Linked DNA regions of Homo sapiens: region 1 is linked to region 2. The links come from fine-mapping of genetic effects on gene expression. A gene starts in region 2. The other region holds a variant in brackets. All regions are shown on one strand. Distances are between the middles of the regions. Region 1 has its middle 49 kb from the start of TENT5C-DT. Region 2 holds the start of MAN1A2 (mannosidase alpha class 1A member 2).

The links. PIP is the estimated chance that this variant, and not a neighbour inherited with it, causes the effect.
Region 1: its variant is fine-mapped to the expression of MAN1A2 in gastroesophageal junction (GTEx, PIP 0.90).

What each region holds. Positions count from the first base shown.
Region 1 is chr1:117,551,201-117,561,836 of GRCh38, forward strand. No RefSeq gene overlaps it. Among named protein-coding and RNA genes, the nearest start is that of TENT5C-DT, 49 kb to the right of the region's middle. The variant A/G (reference allele first, on the strand shown) is at 5,421.
Region 2 is chr1:117,361,649-117,372,284 of GRCh38, forward strand. It overlaps MAN1A2 (mannosidase alpha class 1A member 2), which reads left to right and starts at 5,801. Exons shown (of 13, transcript NM_006699.5): 1 at 5,801-6,837. The coding sequence starts at 6,536. RefSeq lists silencers at 2,057-2,116, 5,037-5,856 and an enhancer at 6,727-6,866.

The DNA of each region.
Region 1 (10,636 bases), 190 kb after region 2:
CAAGAAAAATATGTGTTTTGTTTACCTCAGTTTTTTCTAAAATTGTGAAATGTATTATTTGTATCTTTGTTATGTCTACATTGAAGATGATTAATCATGGATGATGTTGTACATGGTTTTGGAGTTTTTTCTTTTCATGAAATGTTGAGAGGGCAAAGCATATCCTCACAAGCTGTGACAAATTTTTTTGAAATACCTTCGGCCTAAAGGGAAATAACAAAAAGTTAAATATAGTTATTAAAGTTTATTTTGTTAGTGTTTTGAGTGCTAGTACCTCAAACAATTCTATAATGATGTGAATTATGATATAATCTAATCTTTGTTATTCTTTCTTGTATCATTTAGTTTTTAATTAACATTTTATTCAAAAAGGATATGAAGTTCTTCCTATGTTTATGTCACGAATCCACTCTTTTTTAACCTTCAAATCAACACTCTGTTTCCTATATATTCAGCTATTTGGCTGTTTTTAATAATTGTTTTCATATGTAAAATTGCTCATTACTTTTTATAGCATTTCAATTTTTTTAATAGTTTGAGGGGGTACCGATGCAGGTTCGCTTCATGGATATGTTGTGTAATGGTGAAGTTTGGGTTTCCAGCGTGTCCATCACCCCGATAGTAAACACTGTACCCAACAGGTAATTTTTCAACCCTTACCCCCTCCTACTGTTACCACTTTTGAAGTCCCCAGTGTCTGTTAGTTCCTTCTCTATGTCCATGTGTACCCACTGGTTAGCTCCCTTTATAAGTGAGAGCATGTAGTATTTGATTATCTGTTTCTGAGTTATTTCACTTATAGTAATGGCCTCCAACTCCATTTATGTTGCTGCAAAAGACATAATTTCATTTTTGTGGCTGTGTAGCACTCCATCGTGTGTGTGTGTGTATGTGTGTGTGTGTGTATATATATATAAATACAATTACCACATTTTTTATCCAGTCATCTGTAGATGGACACTTAGGTTGATTCCATGACTTTGCTATTGTGAATAGTGCTGCAATAAACATATGAAAAACTATACCATGCAAACAGAAAACAAAAATGAGCAGGAGTAGCTATATTTATGTCAGATAAAACAGACTTTAAATCAATAACTGTAAAAAAGGACAAAAGTTATTATATAATGACAAATGGTTCAATTTAACAAGAAGATATAACTATCCCAAATATATATGCACCCAATACCAAAGCACCAAGATCCATAAAACAAATACTACTAGACCTAAGAAAAGAGACAGCAATGCAATAATGGTGGGGAACTTTATCACCCCACTGACAGGACTAGACAGATCATCAAGGCAAAAAATCAGCAAAGTCTTAAACTGGACTCTAGGCCAAATGGACCTACCTAATAGACATTTACAGAACATTCTACCCAACAACTGCAAAATATACATTTTTCTTATCTGAATGTGGAACATTCTGGAAAATAGACCATATTCTTGGCCATAAGGCAAGTCTCAATAAATTTTTAAAAAATCATATGAAATATCTTTTTAGACCACTGTGAAATAAAATTAGAACTCAATATCAAGAGGAGCTCTCTAAAGTATTTGAATATATGGAAACTAAACAAGTTGCTCCTGAATGATCTTTGAGTAAATGATGAAATTAATACAGAAATTAAAAAGATGGAAACAAATGAAAAGAGACACAACACACCAAAACTTCTGGGATATAGCAAAAGCAGTGCTGGAAGCTTATAGTGTTAAATGGCTACATTAAAAAGATAGAAAGACCTAAAATCAACAACCTAATGTCACACCTCAAGGAACTAGAAAAATAAAAACAAACCAAACCAACAGCTAGCAGAAGAAAAAGAAATAGCAAAGATTAGAGCAGAATTAAGTGAGGTTGAGACAAAAAAAAAAAAAAAAAAAAACATGATATGAAGGATCAATGAAACAAAAAGTTGGTTCTTTGAAAAGATAAACATAATTGATAGACCACTGGCTAGACTAGCCAAGAAAAAGAGAGAGAAGATTCAAATAAACACAATCAGAAATCATAAAGGTGACATTACAATTGATACCACAGAAATACAAAAGATCAATTGAGACTACTTTGTACATCTCTATGCTCACAAACTAGAAACCCTAGGGGAAATGGATACATTCCTGGAAATGTACTACCTTCCAAGACTGAACTAGGAAGAAATAGAAATCCTGAACAGACCAATAGCGAGTAATGAAATTGACTAGTAATAAAAAATTTCCTGACCAAGAAAAGCCCAGGGCCAGATGAATTCACAGCCAAATTTTACCAGATGTTCAATTTTTGAATAATACAAATGCATTTTGTGTTTGGGAGTACATGTTCAAGTAACTGATAGATTTACAATGTATAAAGCACACAAGTAGATTCTCACTCCAAAAGTCATCTAAAGTGACTACTGATATTTGAAGGTGAATATTCTAATATTAGCAATAATTTGAATGGTGTGGCTTATTCACATTACTGATGATTCAGCACTAATTAGATATGGTGGTAACCCTGAAGGTCACAAGATTATTGATTAGTAAAAATTTATAGATGCCAGAAATTATGTTTAAGTATGCATTTGGCTTTTTGGCCTTTTTAAGGCTGAGGCTTAATACCAAGGCCAGAATTGAACTATATGCACCCTATTCATACTATGCACCATTTCTTAGGAGGTCTTTTACCAAAACAAAAGTATAAACCAAGAAAGTGGCTTCACATCTCCTATAGGTTCTGCATCAATCAAGTTAGTACTAAATTATGCCTTGCTTTGCTTAATATTTTTATTATTTATTTTTAGACAGGGTCTCACTCTGTTGCTAGGCTGAGTGCAGTGGCAAAATCATGCCGTATTGCAGTCTCAACCTCCCTGGTTCAAGTGATCCTCCCACCTCAGCCTCCTGAATAGCTGGGACTAAAGGAGCATGCCAGCATGTCTGGCTAATTTTTTGTATTTTTGTAGAGACGGGGCTTCACCATGTTGCCCAGGCTGGTCTCGATATCCTGGGCTCAGGCAATCTGGCTACCTTGGCCTCCCAAAGTGTTGGGAGTACAGGTATGAGCCACTGTACCTGGTCACTGCTTAATGTTTGTATAACTTAAACCTACCAACCTATTAATCTCTTTTAAAACTGTAAATGTGTTGTGGGCAGAAACCTTATCTTAGTTGTGTTTTGCCTCTTTAATTTTATAGGGAAATAATGATAATTTGGTAATTTTCCTCTAAGGATTATTTTTTTATTATTATTATTATACTTTAAGTTCTGGGATACATGTCCAGAACATGCAGGTTTGTTACATAGGTATACATGTGCCATGGTGGTTTGCTGCACCCATCAACCCATCATCTACATTAGGTATTTCTCCTAATGCTATCCCCCCACCAGCCTCTCACCCCCATAACTGGCCCCGATGTGTGATGTTCCCCTCCCTGTGTCCATGTGTTCTTATTGTTCAACTACCACTTATGAGTGAGAACATGTGGTGTTTGGTTTTCTGTTCCTGTGTTAGTTTGCTGAGAATGATGGTTTTCAGCTTCATCCATGTCCCTGCAAAGGACATGAACTCATCCTTTCTTATGGCTGCATAATATTCCATGATGTATATGTGCCACATTTTCTTAATCCAGTCTATCACTGATGGGCATTTGGGTTGGTTCCAAATCTTTGCTATTGTGAATAGTTCTGCAATAAACATATGTGTGCATGTGTCTTTATAGAATGATTTATAATCCTTTGGGTATATACCCAGTAGTGGGATTGCTGGGTCAAATGGTATTTCTGGTTCTAGATCCTTGAGGAATCACACACTGTCTTCCACAATGGTTGAACTAATTTACACTCCCACCAACGGTGTAAAAGCGTTCCTATTTTTCCACATCCTCTTCAGCATCTGTTGTTTCCTGACTTTTTAATAATCACCATTCTAACTGGTATGAGATGGTATGACCTTTTGGTTTTGATTTGCATTTCTCTAATGACCAATTATGATGAGCTTTTTTTCATATGTTTGTTGGCCGCATAAATGTCTTCTTTTGAGAAGTGTCTGTTCATATCCTTTGCCCACTTTTTGATGGGGTTGTTTGTTTTTTTCTTGTAAATTTGTTTAAGTTCCTTGTGATTCTAGATATTAGCCATTTGTCAGATGGATAGGTTGAAAAGAAGAAGATATGTAATTCAGGAAACAGTTTCAACTTAAGAGACAGAAGGAGAAAAACTCAAAATGACGGTGAAAGGAGATTTCAGGATAACAGCTGTGTACGAAGTATAGATGTCAACCAGTCCAGAGTGGAGTATGGTCAAATGGATCCAGAGATAGAGCTCCAGGAAGTGGAAAATGATGGAATACCCTCATTTATTTGAGTGATTGAGAGGAGTTTTCAGTGGATAGGTGAAAGCTGGGGTTGTATCAGTGATAAGTGTATAGAAAACTATATGAGATGCAAGCTCCCTACATCTCTTGTAGCTATTCTTGAAGCTAGGCCAACTAGCCATTCCTTCAGAGTTTTTCTCCTTCCGTCTCTTCCAGGGTTGGATAAAACACTACAGCACAGGGTGTGAGATCTAGGATCTCAAGTGGGCAGCCCATGAAGGGACTGGGTTAATGCAATCTAGAAGTACAAGGGAATACATTCACATGAGATGAATTTTACCAAACAAGAATCCAGAGACAAGAAGGAGCCTGGAGGACAAATCACTTTTCTTCTTTTCTTCTATGGTGGACATTGAAGCATGATTTATTCTTGCAACCCATCTGGAGAAGTCTCGGGTGCCAAATGAACAGACCTGCTGAACAACCCGCTGTGTCACTAAGTGGTTCTTTATGCAGCAGCAGCCAAGTGCAGTAACATGTCATTTTGCATTGCTTCACGTCTTTATTTGCCTCCCTTCCTTTTTCCTCAACCTCAGTGATCTGGATTTGCATCTCCCAAATAGAGTAACAGCACTTTAATTTTTGCTTCAGACTCTACTTTTTAGAGGCTAAGATTAAAACTAAGCAAATAATTAAAGAAGAAACTTCAAAGAAAACTAAAAGTAGGGCAAGAAAGAAAAAATAATAGGGTGGCTAGTATTATTATTATTAGGCTCAGTCCTTAATAGAGTTTAGTAGTAACATTAGAAATATTAAATATCCAACAATTGAGATATAGCTACACTGGAAGAATAGGGTAAGGGAAGAGATATTGGTCATGTAGTAGTGGTGGTTAAACAGAAATAAATCCTTATCTTCACTAGTAAAAAGTCAATTAGACTGAAAAACCAAAAAAGTTAAAGTTAAAAAAGAAAAGAAAACTAATGGAATTGAAAGGATTTCCCTCTTGAGAAAAGGAAATAGGGAGTTGATAGTTCCTCTTTTTTAAGTCTTACTGAATTAAGTCTGACTCTTCTATCATTTAAGTCTTACTGAATTAAGTCTAACTGACTCTTCTATCATGTAC[A/G]CTTATAACATTGATTTTAAAAAACACATTTCAAATGCTAGTTACTGATGAAGGCATGTGGTTTTATTGTTGTAAGCTATAAAATCAAACTAAGGTAGATATTTAAACTCTGAAGAAACTTCAGTTTTGTGAAGTGACTGCACATTTTACACTTCCTCTAGCTATGTATAAGATCTTATCCTAGCTGTTCCACATCCTCTCCAACATTTATTGTTGTTGATCTCTTTTTATTTTAGCATTTGGTATTGTCTTTTTCATTTCCGTCATTCCTGTTGATATGTACTGATATCTCATTGTGGTTTTAATTTGCATTTTGCCTAATGCCTAATGAGGTTGAGCATTTTGTCATGGGCATCATGGGCTTACTGGCCATTGGTCCCTCTTCTTTTATGTTCTTTTTAATTGACTTGTTTCATTCTTTAGTTATAGGAATCTTTATGCATGCACATACAAGTCATTTGTCAATGTTATGTGTTGCAAATATTTTCTCCCAACCTGTAACTTAAGTATTTTCTAAATTGTGTCTTTTAGTTAGAAAAATTTTTAAAATTTTGCTGAAATTGCAATTTAGCAATTTTTTCTTTTATGGCTAATATTTTCTGAATCCTCTGGAGAAAATTTTTTTCTTCTCTAAGGTCATGAAGACATTCTTCAGTGTTTCTTTCTAGTAACTTTCTAGCTTTTCCATTTAGGTCTGTGGCCCATTTATTGATGTGATTTTCCTTTCCTCATGTATCAGTATTCTATGCTGCATAACAAATTACTACAAATATAGTGATGGACAACAGTGAACATTAATTATCTCACAGTTTCTGTAGGCAGGAGTCCAGGCACAGGTTGGCTGAGACCTCCACTCAGGGCCTCACAAGAATAGAATCAAAATTGCCATCGGTTTTTGTTCCTTTCCAGAGCTTGGGGTCCTCTTCTATGCTGACATGGTCGTTGGCAGAATTCAGTTGTGGCTGAGGTCCCACTTTCTTGATGGCTGTGAGCAAGGGGCTGCTCTCAGTTTCTAGAGGCCCCTGTAGCTCAAGGGAGAGTCTCTCATTCCAGTTGGCTAAGATGGAGTCTTATGCAAAGTAACATAATCATAGAGGTGACATCCATCACTGGTGCCGTACTCTGTTGGTTAGAAATAGGTCATAGATCCTGCCCACACTCAAGAGGAGAGGGTGTAGAGCCAGGAGGCAGAGATCATAAGGACCATTTAGAATTCTGCCTACCTCACCCCATCACATTTCCCATATGACCTAGTACTTCCCCTCTGTATTAGTTCATTTTCATGCTGCTGATAAAGACATACCTGAGATTGGGCAATTTACCAAAGAAAGAGATTTACTGGACTTACAGTTCCATGTGACTGGGGAGGTCTCACGATCATGGCAGAAGGTGAAAGGCACATCTCACATGGAGACAGACAAGAGAAGAGAGCTTGTGCAGGGAAGTTCCCCCTTTTAAAACTATCAGATCTCATGAGACTTATTCACTATCATGAGACAATACGTGAAACACCAGCCCCCATGATTCAGTTACCTCCCACTGGATCCCTCCCACAACATGTGGGAATTCAAGATGAGATTTGGATGGGGACACAGCCAAACTATATCATTCTGACCCTGGCCCCTCCCAAATCTCATGTCCTCACATTTCAAAACCAATCATGCCTTCCCAACAGTCCCCCAAAGTCTTAACTCATTTCAGCATTAACTCAAAAGTCCACAGTCCAAAGTCTTTGGACAAGGCAAGTCCCTTCTGCCTATGAGCCTATAAAATCTAAAGCAAGCTAGTTACTTCCTAGATACAATGGGGGCACAGGCATTGGGTAAATACAGCCATTCCAAATGGGAGAAATTGGCCAAAACAAAGGGGTTACAGGGCCCATGCAAGTCCAAAATCTAGCAGGGCATTCAAATCTTAAAGATCCAAAATCATCTCCTTTAACTCCATGTCTCACATCCAGGTCATGCTGATGCAAGAGGTGGATTCCCATGGTCTTTGACAGCTCCACCCCTGTGGCTTTGCAGGGTACAGCCTCCCTTCTGGCTGCTTTCATGGGCTGGCACTGAGTGTCTGTGGCTTTTCTAGGTGCATGGTGCAAGCTGTCAGTAGATCTACCATTCTGAGGTCTGGAGGATGGTGGCCCTCCTCTCACAGCTCCACTAGGTGGTGCCCCAGTAGGGGGGCTCTGACCCCATATTTTCCTTCCACACTGTCCTAGCAGAAGTTCTCCATGGGAGCCCTGCCCCTGCAACAAATTTCTGCCTGGACATCCAGGCATTTCTGTACATCTTCTGAAATCTAGGTGGAGGTTCCCAATCCCCAATTTTTGACTTCTGTGCACTCGCAGGCTCAACACCGTGTGAGAGCTACCAAGGCTTGGGACTTGCACTCTCTGAAGTCATGGCCTAACCTCTACATTGGCCCCTTTTAGCCATGGCTGGAGCAGCTGGGACACAGGTCACCAAGTCCCTAGGCTGCACATAGCACAGGGACCCTGGGCCCAGCCCATGAAACCACTTTTTCCTCCTAGGCCTCTGAGCCTGTGATGGGAGGAGCTGACATGAAAACCTCTGACATGCCTTGGAGACATTTTCCCCATTGTCTTGGGGATGAACATTCGGCTCCCTGTTACTTATGCAAATTTCTACAGCCAGCTTGAATTTCTCCTCAGAAAATGGGCTTTGCTTTTCTGTCACATTGTCAGGCTGCAAATTTTCCACTCTGCTTTATGCTCTTTGTGCTCTGCTTCTCTCATAAAACTGAATGCCTTAAACAGCACCCAGGTCGCCTCTTGAATGCTTTTCTGCCTGGAAACCTCTTCCGCCAGATAGCCTAAATCATTTCTCTCAAGTTCAAAGTTCCACAAATCTCTAGGGCAAGGGAAAAATGCCACCAGTCTCTTTACTAAAACATAACAGGAGTCACCTTTGCTCCAGTTCCCAAGTTCCTCATGTCCATCTGAGACCACCTCAGCCTGTACTTTATTGTTCATATCGCTATCAGCATTTTGGGCAAAGCCATTCACAACAAGTTCCTCATCTCCATCTGAGACCACCTCAGCTTGGACTTTATTGTCCATATTGCTATCAGCATTTTGGGCAAAGCCATTCAACAAGTTCTAGGAAGTTCCAAACTTTCCCACATTTTCCTGTCTTCTTCTGATCCCTCCAAACTGTTCCAACCTCTACCTGTTACGCAGTTCCAAAGTCGCTTCCACATTTTGGGGTATCTTTTTCAGCAATGCCCCACTCTACTGGTACCAATTTACTGTATTAGTCCATTTTCACACTGCTGATAAAGACATACCCAAGACTGGACAATCTGCAAAAGAAAGAGGTTTATTGAACTTATAGTTCCACGTGGGTGAGGAGGCCTCACAATCATGGCAGAAGGTAAAAGGCATGTCTCACATGGTGGCAGATAAGAGAAGAGAGTTTGTGCAGAGAAGCTCCCCTTTTTAAAACCATCAGATCTTGTGAGACTTATTCATTATTACGAGAACAACATGGGAAAGACCTTCCGCCATGATTCCATTACCTTCCACCAGGTCCCTCCCATAACAAGTGGGAATTCAAGATAAGATTTTGAGGGGGTGGACACAGCCAAACCATATCACCCTCGTAGGTATTTACCCAAGAGAAATGAAAGCATATGTCCACAAAAACCTGAACACAAATTGTCATCAGGACTTTGTTCAAAATAGCCAAAAACTATAAACAACTTGTATGTCTAACAACAGAAGAATGGAAAAGCAAACTGTGATATGTTCATGCAATGAAATACTAGTTAGCCACAAAAAGGAATGAACTGCCAATATACATTTTGATATAGATGAATCCAAAAAATATGCTGGGTGAAAGAAGCTGGCCACAAAAAAGTACCCATGATATGAACTCAATTATATAAAGTTTGAGAAGAGGTAAAACTAACCTATGATGATAGAAATCAGATCAGTGGTTGCTTAGGAGGTAGAATTGACTAGGAGGGGGCATGAGGCAACTTTCTGGAATAATGGAAATGTTCTGTGTCTTGATATGCATTCATTAAAACTGACAAGTTTGAGGTTCACTATATGTAAAGTATACCTCAATTAAAAGGCATACATTATTTCAGAGCAAGCATGTATTGGACATGGGATTTTGGCAGGGGTCATTAAACTTTAGTGTATATAGGAATCATTTGGGGTGCTTTTTAAACGTGCAGATCCCTAGGCTTCACCCTAAAGATTCTGATCTAGGTCATCTGCAGTGGTGCCAGGGATCTGCATTTTTAATAAACAATTCAGGTTATTCTGGCACTGCTGGCCCCTGGAATAACCTTGGAGGAACACTGTTTAAGACATGTGCTCTCACTAGCTGGCTCTCTCCCTCCCTCATTCTCATCCTGAGCAGGGGCTTCTCATAGCTATCATGCCATGGCAGGGGGATCTAGGACAAATTGCTCAAATCTCAAGCAGAGAGAGGAGGAGAGACAGCTTGTTGTGCCTCTGGTGGGCCAAGGTACTCCTTACTCCCTGAATTTTTATATATCTTGGAGGGGAACTCTCTTGCATGAAGTCTCCCTGGGCACCAGTGAAGAAAGCTCAGGTGTGTACTGCCTGGGCTGTGCCTCAGACAGGCTGGAGAAGGAGCGGCTGCCTCCTCCCCACTTGCTCATGACCAGCCCCAGCCCTGGCCTAGGGGTACAGGCTTCACTGAGCATCAGCTCAACTGTAGCTGGGCCCGGAGCCCAGCCAGTCTCAGAATGGGTGCTCTGAGAGTGTCATCTGGGGAGCCTTGAGGCTCCCAGGGGCTCCATGGCTACACTTTTGGTTTGGCCCAAGATTAAGTTTTACTGTTGCTCCACAGTGCACATGAGACTTTTGTCCATGAGGCCTTCTCAAAGGTAGAGCCGTCTTTTCAGAAACTCATGGCAGACAGCAATGGGTGGACAGGGGTTGTGGGGCCCTGTGTCCATCTGCAGTGACCACAAGATGGAAAGTGATGAGCCCAGGCAGGTGCTGTGTGAGTCAGATTCAATGTGTACTTCTCATCCCAAGGCCACTCTTGGCATCAGATGCAAGGCTTCCACCTGCCCCAGGGGGTTGATGGCTCTCCCTGCACCCTGCAGGTATTAAGCTGTGCACCAATTCTGGCAGCCAAGCCAAATCAGAAGCCAAAGATGGAGGATGGAGTAACTTGAAAGCACTCTCTACCGTGAGAGCTTCCTGTGTGCCA
Region 2 (10,636 bases):
AATATAAGGATTTATAAAGAATTCCTAACCTCTTTTGGAGTCAAATTCCTTTTCATAAAGGTGGATATGAGGATCCAACTTGGAAGGTTTCTGTAGGGGTTGCTAGCTTTGATATACCTCTGCAGTCACATCTGTCCAGCCCTCCCAGTTTTAGGTTTTCTTTCCCTGGCCGACCACAGAGACATCTCTGCTGGTTTCATTCTGCTTTTGTCCCTGCCCAAGCTTGTTGCCTACCTGAAAGAGTAGGTTCCTTCTAGTCCCTGATCACTTATACTTGTAAAACTACTGAAGCTTCACATACTACTACCAGCCACAATACCTCCATGTAAAGACACACTGTGTATTAGTCAAGACTCTTGAATGTAAGCCACAGAAACTAATTCTGACTGAAAAAGAAATTTATAGACTTATACAACCGAGAAATTCAAAAGATGAAATAGCCTTAGATATACCTGGATTCAGAGAAGTAGATTTACAATGAGCCCAATGAAGTTTAAATTTCTGGGTTACTAATTGCTCGGTCCTGTCTTAGGCTCTGGGAGAGGTCCTAGCAACATGTATACATAATCATGTTTTTCTAAATCTTGTAAAAATAAAATATTTCAATCACGATTGGTTAAGATTGTGGTTTCTTTTCTACTCTGATTTCCTATCCGTCACACTGCTCCATTGGTCGCGTGGGTCGGGTGGTGGTGGTGTGGTCTCAGCATTACTAAGACATACTCACTTGTAATGGAATTCAGTTTAGCAAAATCCTTTTTTTTTTTTCCTGAAATGGAGTCTCACTGTGTCACCAGGCTGGAGTGCAGTGGCGCGATCTTGGCTCACTGCAATCTTTGCCTCCCGGGTTCAAGCGATTCTTCTGCCTCAGCCTCCTGAGTAGCTGGGATTACAGGCGCTCGCCACCACACCCAGCTAATTTTTGTATTTTTAGTAGAGACGGGTTTTCACCAGGCTGGCCATGATGGTCTTAATCTCCTGACCTCATGATCCACCTGCCTCGGCCTCCCAAAGTGTTGGGATTACAGGTGTGAGCCACCACACCCGCCCTAAAATCCACTTTAATAATTCATTTTGTATTATTTTTCTTAAAGAGGACTCCTCAAATTAGGTATGCTTCCAGCCCCACAAGACCCAGATCCACCCTTACCAAGGGCTCAAGTGATACCATGTAGATACTTTCTCTCTCACTGTTTCAGCTCTTTTCTTCTCTGTTTGCTTCATTAGTAGCAAACTTCCTCACATGGTGGCAAGAAGGCCACTGGCAGCTCTAAGGTTATAGCACGCTCAGGGCTGGGAATTCTAAGGTAAAGAGATACCACTTTTGCTGATGACATCAGGAAATGACCTAAGGAGGGTTTGGATTAGCTTGGTTTGTGTCACTTGCCCTTTTCCAAACCAATCATTATGGCCAGGGAAATGTGGAACACAGGTTAGTCAAATCTGGGTAACATTCCTGGATCTAGTTAATGGTGGGAGCAAGTGCTATAGTGGGTGGTTGAGAGGTCATCCCAATCTAGACCAATAGACTAAGACCGGGGAAAAGATAGTTTTCTAAAGGAATGCTAGACAAACTGGAATTTCATGTTTCCAAGTCACACAAACACAACCATCAGCAACCTATTATTCTGAATAGAACAAACAAGTCTTTAGAGCATTTTAGAAACAATAGCTCATTTGATCCTTAAACAGTCCTATAAAATAGGTAAGGACTATTATGTTTTATAAATAAGGAAACTCAGTAAGGAGTAGAGCTAGGTTTGAAATCCATGTCTTTTGACTCCTAGTTCAGTACCTCATATACATTTAAAGGGCTTCACTTTATTAATGGATTTAAAGAGGTGAAACATTGCCTGAAACAAGAGGGTACTGCCTGTGAAAGCACGAATACCATCTATGTCTTTTCATTACAGAAACATGTTGGCAATACCCATTAGTCATTCTGAACCCATTTTATTTGCAATGCAATAGCACTGCCCCACCATTTTCACTTTCCCAGCTCAAGAGTGTTGTGAGATTAGGGCCAGGCAAGCTATTTACTGGACGAGTAGAGCAGGAAGTGTTCTGCGTAAATGGCAGGAAAAACCAGCTATGGGTGCCTGCGCATGCTCTGCTCCCTAGGCTGGAGCACGACCCTTCTCTTATGGTTCAAGGCTCAGCTCAGGTGACACTGGATTGGGGAACTTTCCCTAACTTTCCCAATCCACCTCCTCTCACTCTGTGGCACCTTCAGTGTTCCCATAAAGCCCGTGACACTTTGCTCCAACAGCATTCTTCCCACTGTCTTGTAATCGTCAGTGTTCATCTACTCCTCCACACTAGACTGCAAGCTCACTGAGCATAAGGATTCTGACTTATTTCTCCAAATCTCCAGCACCTAGTACAGGATTTGTCAAATAGTAGTCCTCCAACAAATGAGTCTTTTATAAGCAAATGAGCCTCACGTACTTTGGCTCAGAGAAGCAGCCAAGATTTTTTGGCTTTGCCGACTTTCACGGATCTTACTTGAGGGCTTCACAGCACTGAACTTCAGTTTATCCCTGACCTCTGAGGAAAATGCCTCATAGAGGAAAGCAAGATTGGAAGGAGCAAGGCTGAAGCCTGTTATTTCCCTACACATTCAGTGGTCACGTCGAGTAATTTCTCCTCCAATATCTTCCTTGTACATTTTGGGCACCAGTTGGAACAGGTTACATAAGTAAATCAAAAGCCTCTTTTTGCATACCAGCTTTTATTTTTTTCCTGTAGCACTTCAGTTTCACTTAAAACAGAGCTAGGGGTGTATGTGTGTGTGTGTGTGTGTGTGTGTGCATGCGTGTGTGTATAACAGGTGTGAAATGGTTTCAATAATAGAAAAGTCAACACATGGTTGAACAAATACAAGTAACTTCCACATTGCAATACGAGTGGATCTTAGGAGTGGTCCTGTAAATCTGCAGGAGTAAATTTTGTTAGTAATTTATTAATTCTAATTTCTAAAATATTAATTTATATGGATTTGTAAAAGGGAAATCATCACTTTGGAATCTCTGATCAAAGGGTAACTACTCTTTGAAAATGAAATATTCTTTTTAGACTCTCTGGAATGAAATCCTTCCCTGTTGTACGTGTACACACACATACACACATACATAGAACAGGCTGCATACTGTTTCTGCCGATTGCCTTCAGATGGGCCGGTCTGTGTGTTCATCTTGATACTACCGAGTCTACCTATTTGAAATTTGACCTTAACTTTTTCAGGCACCAGTTCCTTTATAATTTTTATTTAATTGTAAATATAATGCAACAGAATACAATGGAGAAAATCATACGTAAAACCAGTATCTTAACAGAATAGTTGCAATCTTTTTCAAATATTCTTTTTCTATGTTTTTAAGTGCATATAATTATAATTAATGGATACATTTGCAACTTTTTTTTTTTTAAACAACATGATTCTTTAAAAACTCAGACTTGCCTTTAGAAGAGTGGATATATGTAATACTATGTATACAGTATTTTCATTGCTGGTGTAGGAGTGTGATAACTGACGGTATCATCAATGACTTTAAAATTGCTGGCTGCATTTGGACATCTGCAATAACCCCTAAATTGTTTTTACTCTCATGAAGGAAAAATGAATTTTGCAAAACAGACAAGCAAAGGAAAAGGGGTCTTCTCCATCAGCAATGAGGTCTTACTTGCTTAAGCTATACTTGTCAACTAGGTTATGTCAGGTTTCATGATTGAAATCTCTTGTGGTTAAGTCTAGTGTTAACCTAGGTAATATTTATTTTTCAAGATTTATATAACTTGCTATTTCATTCAGAGTTCAGTATTTATTTCCCCTGAACTTTTCATGGAAACTAATGATCTCAACAGTAGGAAAACAGTGTGTTCTTCCCCGCCTCCCCACCGCCCCCCCCACTTTGGCTTACGGAGTCTCAACATTAGAGACTTATTCTTAAATTTGGCACATTTTATAAAGACATATTGGGAAGGCTAAAAGTTTCTTATATCTACTCTTCACAAATGTTCAACATAAATCTCACTAGGGACCGGGCACTCCTTGCTTACCAGTCTCCCTGGGTGAACTGGTGAGAGGTGGCCCTCAATATTTTTACTTTTTATTTGGTGAAGCAGGATCAATGACAATGACTTTTGTCATGTGGTAGGCAGTTAGATATGCAGAGCTTCTAGAAATAATGCAGACTGGGAGACTGGAATGTAGTTACAAGTGTGCCAATGAACATGAGACTTTTCTGCTTGATTTTTAAGCTAAGGCTGACTTACTCTCCTGACATTTAAGGGCCTCCTCTCCAATTCCCAGTCATCAGTAAAGGATGTGTACAGGGAATGACAATATTAGAACAAAAACAACCTGCAAGTAAATCGGATGCAAGAGTCTATGTATCTTGCAAGGAAATCTTTTGCACTTAATCACAACATGGCTCTCCTCAATACTACGGAGAACAGAATTGATTCAGATTGTTTTTAAGCCTGAACGTAAACAATATTGTCGCCTTTTTGGGTTTCAGCACCTCCTTATTCATCCATTTTCTCTTTTATGGGAAGGGGGTTGATGAGGTGTGTGAAGATGATAGAACGTGCCCCAGAAACTGAACAATGAAGAGACGCCTGTCATATCGGGGGTACCTAGATTCCTCTGAAAGGAAGCCCAGCTGAAGGAGCAGGGTCACCACTTTATTTTAAAAACGTAACATGGCACATGTTGGTGCTCTATTAATCGAGCCTCGGGGGCCCAATAACGTGAGCATGGGCTGCTGCGTGGAAGTTTGAGACCCTGTTGCTGAATCCTCGGGCCTGACGGTCTATCGCTGAAGACAAGACTTCCAAAGAATCACAGTAAACGTTAACCTAAGCCATCAGAAGCCATTAACTCCGGTGACACTACATTTCAGCGAAACCTTCGCGACCCAACCCCTCGCTCCCTCTCGCCCAAACGCTGGGTCAACCCCACGAACTGGCGGTGGCAAGGCCCTGGGCACCGGTGAAGTTCTCGTGGCAGCGCAGATCGGCGACCTTCTCTTCTTTCGCGCTCAGACGGCGGCGGCAGCAGTACGCTTTCGGGCTGCTGGAGCCGGCAGCGGCGCGAGGCCGGAGCCCGGGCAGCCAGGCTGGGTGGGGGAGGGGCGGCGGCAGCGGAGCCGGGAGCGTGCGCGCGCACCTCACACTCCGCCGCCCGGGGACGCCCACTCGCGAGCCGGGGCCGGTAGGCCGGCCCGGGTCCCATCGCCCCCGCCCTCCGGTTCCTCTCCGGCGTGAGCCCAACGGGTGTCGGCCCAGCAGCTGCTGCGCTCACCAGGCCTGGGGAGGCAGGGTACGGGGACCGGGCCGCAGCCCCGAGCGGCGTGGGCGCGCTGCCTCTCTGGCAGCCGCCGCCAGAGCCAGCAGCTGCGAGCCACCGGAGGCGGCGCGGAGGAGGCCCCCGCGGCCGGGCAGGAAGGAGACGCGGCCGACCTCTGCCCGCCCGAGGCGCGGCTGCTCCCGCGCGCCCAGGCCCTCCCGCCGCTCCAGGGCTGAGTGAGGAATGAGCCGGCGCCTACCCCGGGCTCTCGGAGCGTGGGCCCCGGCTCGGCTTCTTAGGCGCGAGGGCTCGGCCACTGCGGCCGGCGGCCTAGCTCGGGGAGCAGGCGCCGGGGTTCACTGAACCGGCCGCGGAGAGGAGGAGGAGGAGGAGGAAGAGGAGGAGGAGGAGGAGGAGGAGCTCGGCGGGGGCGGCCGCCGCGCCTCCCCTCCCCCAGGACACGCCGGGGCTTCTCAGTGGCCGCCGGAGGAGGAAGTTCCGCTCCCTGACAGACCCGTGCGGTAGCAACAGCGGCGGCGGCCGCGGCGGCTGGCCGGACTCAGGTGTTTCGGACGCTATTGCCCTTCGCGCCAGCCGTCGAGTGGGCAGCAGCGGGACTCAGCCGGGCGCCAGGTTCCTGCCAGGCAGCGCCGGGAAGCGCGGGCGGCCGAGAACTCCTTCCTGCTACTTCGCCCAGCGCCGCTGCTTCGGCTTCCCAGCGAAGTGGGAGACCTTCCTCCCTGTTTGCAGACGTCCGTGGGAGACCCTTATTTTTTCCACCGCTAAGGTTAAGAGATTCTGGAATAGAAGCGTCGAAGGAGATCAAGTGAACCTTCTACAACTCCTCGGATGTCGCCAGTCTCCCTTTCGGGGCGGAAGACTACGTTTGAGCATCTCACTGAGGTGCAGGAATGGAAGAACCCACCTTGCAGCTTTTCTGCAGTGTGGCTTGCCTGATCTACCCCTAGGAATGAAGAGGAGGCTTGTAATAATCCGATGAAGTACAGATGTTGAAGAGGATATCGCAGGACCTAAACTTGTGATCGTTTGGGGGAGGTCACACACGTTTCTGAGTGGGAATGGATGGGCGTGAATGACGTGCCCTCTTAAAAAGCACAACAGTCCTTTAAGAGGAGCAAAATTGAGTTTTCCCATTTTGGCCAAGATTTTGAAGACAGTTCAATGTATTCTACATTTGACATAAGATGAGAACTTTCTAAAGTATTCTCTCCAAGAGCGTAAACGATGACTACCCCAGCCCTGCTGCCCCTCTCTGGACGTAGGATACCACCTCTGAACCTGGGGCCGCCTTCCTTCCCACATCACAGGGCTACCTTGAGACTTTCTGAGAAGTTTATTCTTCTCCTTATTCTTAGTGCCTTCATCACTCTGTGTTTTGGGGCATTCTTTTTCCTTCCAGACTCTTCAAAACACAAACGCTTTGATTTGGGTTTAGAAGATGTGTTAATTCCACATGTAGATGCCGGTAAAGGGGCTAAAAACCCCGGAGTCTTCCTGATCCATGGACCCGATGAACATAGACACAGGTTTGTTTATTTCAGAAGTTCTGGTACTAACATTTGGCAGAGCAAGGTACGGTGATTGGATCGAATCTGTCTTTTTTTTTTCTTGCAGTAAAATGTAATTTTTCGAGTCATAAATATTGTATTGTTACTTCAAGACTGGCTGAATAAAACCATAGACTGGAGGGACTCTACCTCCAGTCTATGGTAGAGTCCATAGACTGGTAGGACTGGAGTCCTACCTAAGTCGTTCTTCTCTTCGGTTTTATATAAGAAAAACATTTGCGTTCAGAGTTGTGTCTAATGTGGACATCTGGGAAGGGAGGTATGAAAACTTAACCTAAAGAAATGGTGACATAAGCTGTGCCTGCATTTATTAATAACGTGTTGGAGTCAGTCATTGTGCCACCATGTGAAATCAAAGCATCGAACCTTGACAGCTCTTTTGGGTGTGCTCTCCCAGAGGGCTCTCGTTTTCTGGCTTGTAGTTGAAGCTTAGTAGTGAGTCAGCTTTTTAGGATGACAAACGTGGGCAGAATATACCTGTCATTTCTTAACGTGAAAATATCCTGATTTTTGTTCTTTTTTTGGGGATGTGTGTTGGTGCTGTATATGAAATCAGTTAAGTTAAAAGGTATTGAATCCTAAGTTATTGCACTTTGTGAGGCTTGTAGACAAGATTTATTTTTGTGAAACTTAATTTTGCTCTCTCTTTTAATGTAATAGATGGACTGTGTCAAGCAACTATTGGAATTTGGTTGATTAAGGGGTTCACATTCTTTCAGATCACTAAATCTAAAGTGAGCTCTGGGGAGAGCATAGCCAAACTAGGATAAAATGGGAGCTCTAGTTACAATTTTTATAATTTTTATATTTGTACTCAAGAGTTTGGGAAAGTAGTTGACTTTTCTTAAACCTGCCATCTTTTCCTTGTTTCTTAAAATAATTCTTGAGTATGTGGGAAAAAAAATCATGTGCTTGAATTCATTTCCCATCTGATGATAGTTTTAACTTTTTGTCAAGCACCGAAAAAGCTTAGGTTCACGTGTAAGCCTACATTAAATATTTGGGAAAATGCACTGTTTTATGAGAACTGGTTTTTCTTTTTTTCTCAACCTAGTTAATTCATTACTTGTGTGATGGTTCTTTGACTTTTGGATGAATTTTATGGAGTAGTTACTTCTAATATTGTTTCATGCCATTCTTTTGTAACTAAGTTAATTTGGAATTTTTGCCATTTTCGACTACTGTACTCCTGTATTTGTTTCTTTAATTTTGCACTTTGCTTGTTGTGACTTTAAGAAAACACTAATATGATCTGTGAAATATGTTACTGAAAAATTAACGGTGAAAGTAGTTTTCCTTGAAAATCTTATTTCGCATGGTATTTGTATAACATATGAAATATATTGAAAAAATGTGTTAAGGCTGTTTTTAGAGCTGTTTCACAACAGCCACACATTAACATTACTTAGCTCTATTATTAATAGTATCTGTCATGTACTAAGCAGTTTAAAAAATACATTTTGAATGGTCTAAAAGTTTAAAATAATATGACCACATTTTAGTTTAAAAACATTTACACAAAAATTCTCAGTAAATGGAGTTAAAATATGAAATTTGAATGAAAATACAGATATGTGCCTTTTATTCACATTTTTAACAGTCTGTATAAATAGTTTAAACAAGAATTCTTAAATTTATGAAGCCCTTGGATATATATGCATATGTATTTAGCTATCTAAAACTATTGGGTTCCTGAGTTTGGAATGAGAGATTGGTTATTGTTCTGATAGCAGGGGTGGTTTGTGAGCCATGCCCTGAGTTTTGGCTAGTAAGAGTCTGGATAGCAAGTGATACATGTGAGTCTGGATAGATTCCAATGCAGTTTTTGGAATCTATTCGGTTCCTGAGTTTTGGAAAACGAGAATTCAAATAGAGTTCAGGTGGCAAAGGATCCTTGTGTTATCTCTTTGTATTTCTGTGGTTATATCAGTTGACATTTGCTTTAGCGTATTATTTGCTGTTGTTTACTATATCAGAAAAGAGTCTGTAGTAATAAACTTTCTTTTACTTTGAGCAAGGAAATACTTTTTAAATTAAGTGTATGTTTAAAATGTGGAAACAGAAAACATCAAATGTATAAACATTAACTTATTTAAAAATAATTCAGAAAAATAGCACTTTTACAGTTGGTACTAAGATCATATGTATTTTGGGTATGGGTCAGAACTTACCTAATTTAGAAGAAACAAATTGACAGTTTATCTTCATTTAGTGTGTGTGTGTGTGTGTGTGTGTGTGTGTAAGGGTACAGGATAGAGGGCTGAGGAATGTTACTTTAACTAATAAGTAATGGAAAATAAGTCATGGTCACCATTTCTTATTTGCAGTACTTAAGAGATACTTGTTTAGTTAGTATTTCTTTATTAATAGATTAGTATAATAATTTGGTGTTTAAGTTCTGGAGTCAGACTGTATAGATTCATACCCTAGCTTGCCACTGATTAGATTTATGATACTGAGAAATTTTAAAACTCTATATTGTTTCCTTTGTATCACAGTGGCATGTATCTACTTTACAGATTGTTTTATTGAAAGAGATAGTACATGCAAAGCACTCAACATAGTTCCTGGCATTTAGTAAATGATCAATAAATGTTAACTATTATTATCATCAGTGATTATAATTGTAATGGAATATTTTTATTCGGAATCTACTTTCCTTTAAATACTGTATATTTTCTGAAAAGTAGGGTACAGTTTGATTAATATTTAGAAGTATACTAGGATCTTATTGTCTAAAGGAACATTTTATAACCAAACTGGTTGGCAACAAATGTATGCCTACTGTGGCAGGCCCCGCTTTCATGAAACTTTCAATCTAGGGAGAGATGATGGGCATTAAATAAATAATTTTGTTTTTGAGGTGTGATGAATGTTACGAAGTTGTACTCAGTGCTTTCAGAGCAAGGAATGTGTGACCTAGTCTATAGAGTTGGGGGTGGAGGGGCAGTGGGAATAAGGAAGACTTCATTGAGAAAGTGTGCCTCAGAAACGTAGAATGAGTAGGAGATTGCTTAATGAAGTGGAATTGGAGGTTGAGGGGAGGTTGAGGGTCAAAGCAGAAGACACAACATGTGTGAGAGCCCTAAGGAAAAAAAGCTTGGCATCACTAAGAATCTGAGAAATGTTAAGTATGGCTGTTGCAGAGGGTGTGGGTCTGGGTGATGAGACTAGATGAGAGGTCAGGTTTGGCCTGCTTACAAGTTTTTTGGCCTCCTTATTGTTGTTACAAAAGTTTGAATTAGTTGTCAGCATTCACAGATCAGGAGATTTCATGTTAAAGTCTGGATTTCTGATCTTTCTTGAAAAATTAGAGGTTATGGCAACATCCAGTGTATTTTCAGATGGTAATATTCAAGCCACAACCCAGTAGCAGCTGCTCCCTTGGGAGGGGGACGGGGGCGGGCATGTGCCACTCAGAGTGCGAAATAAGTAAATACAAATCAATCAATATTTAACCTGGTTGTTGTTGAGTTTGCAAATTCTAGTCAGGATTCTAGAGAGTTTGTAGTTAAATATTTTGGTTTTTATCATAAATACTAAGAGAAGTTATTGAAGGATTGTAATAAAAGCAAGGGAATGACATGATCATTTTAAATTAAAAAAATTAAATAATCACTTTGGTTGCAATGATTACTTACTGGATGGTAAGAAGCAGGAGGATAACAAGTTAAGAGGGGCTGGGTCACAGAGGATATATTGGCTTAGATCGCAGTGGTGATAGTGGAGAATGAGATAAATTAGTGGAGAAAAGTGG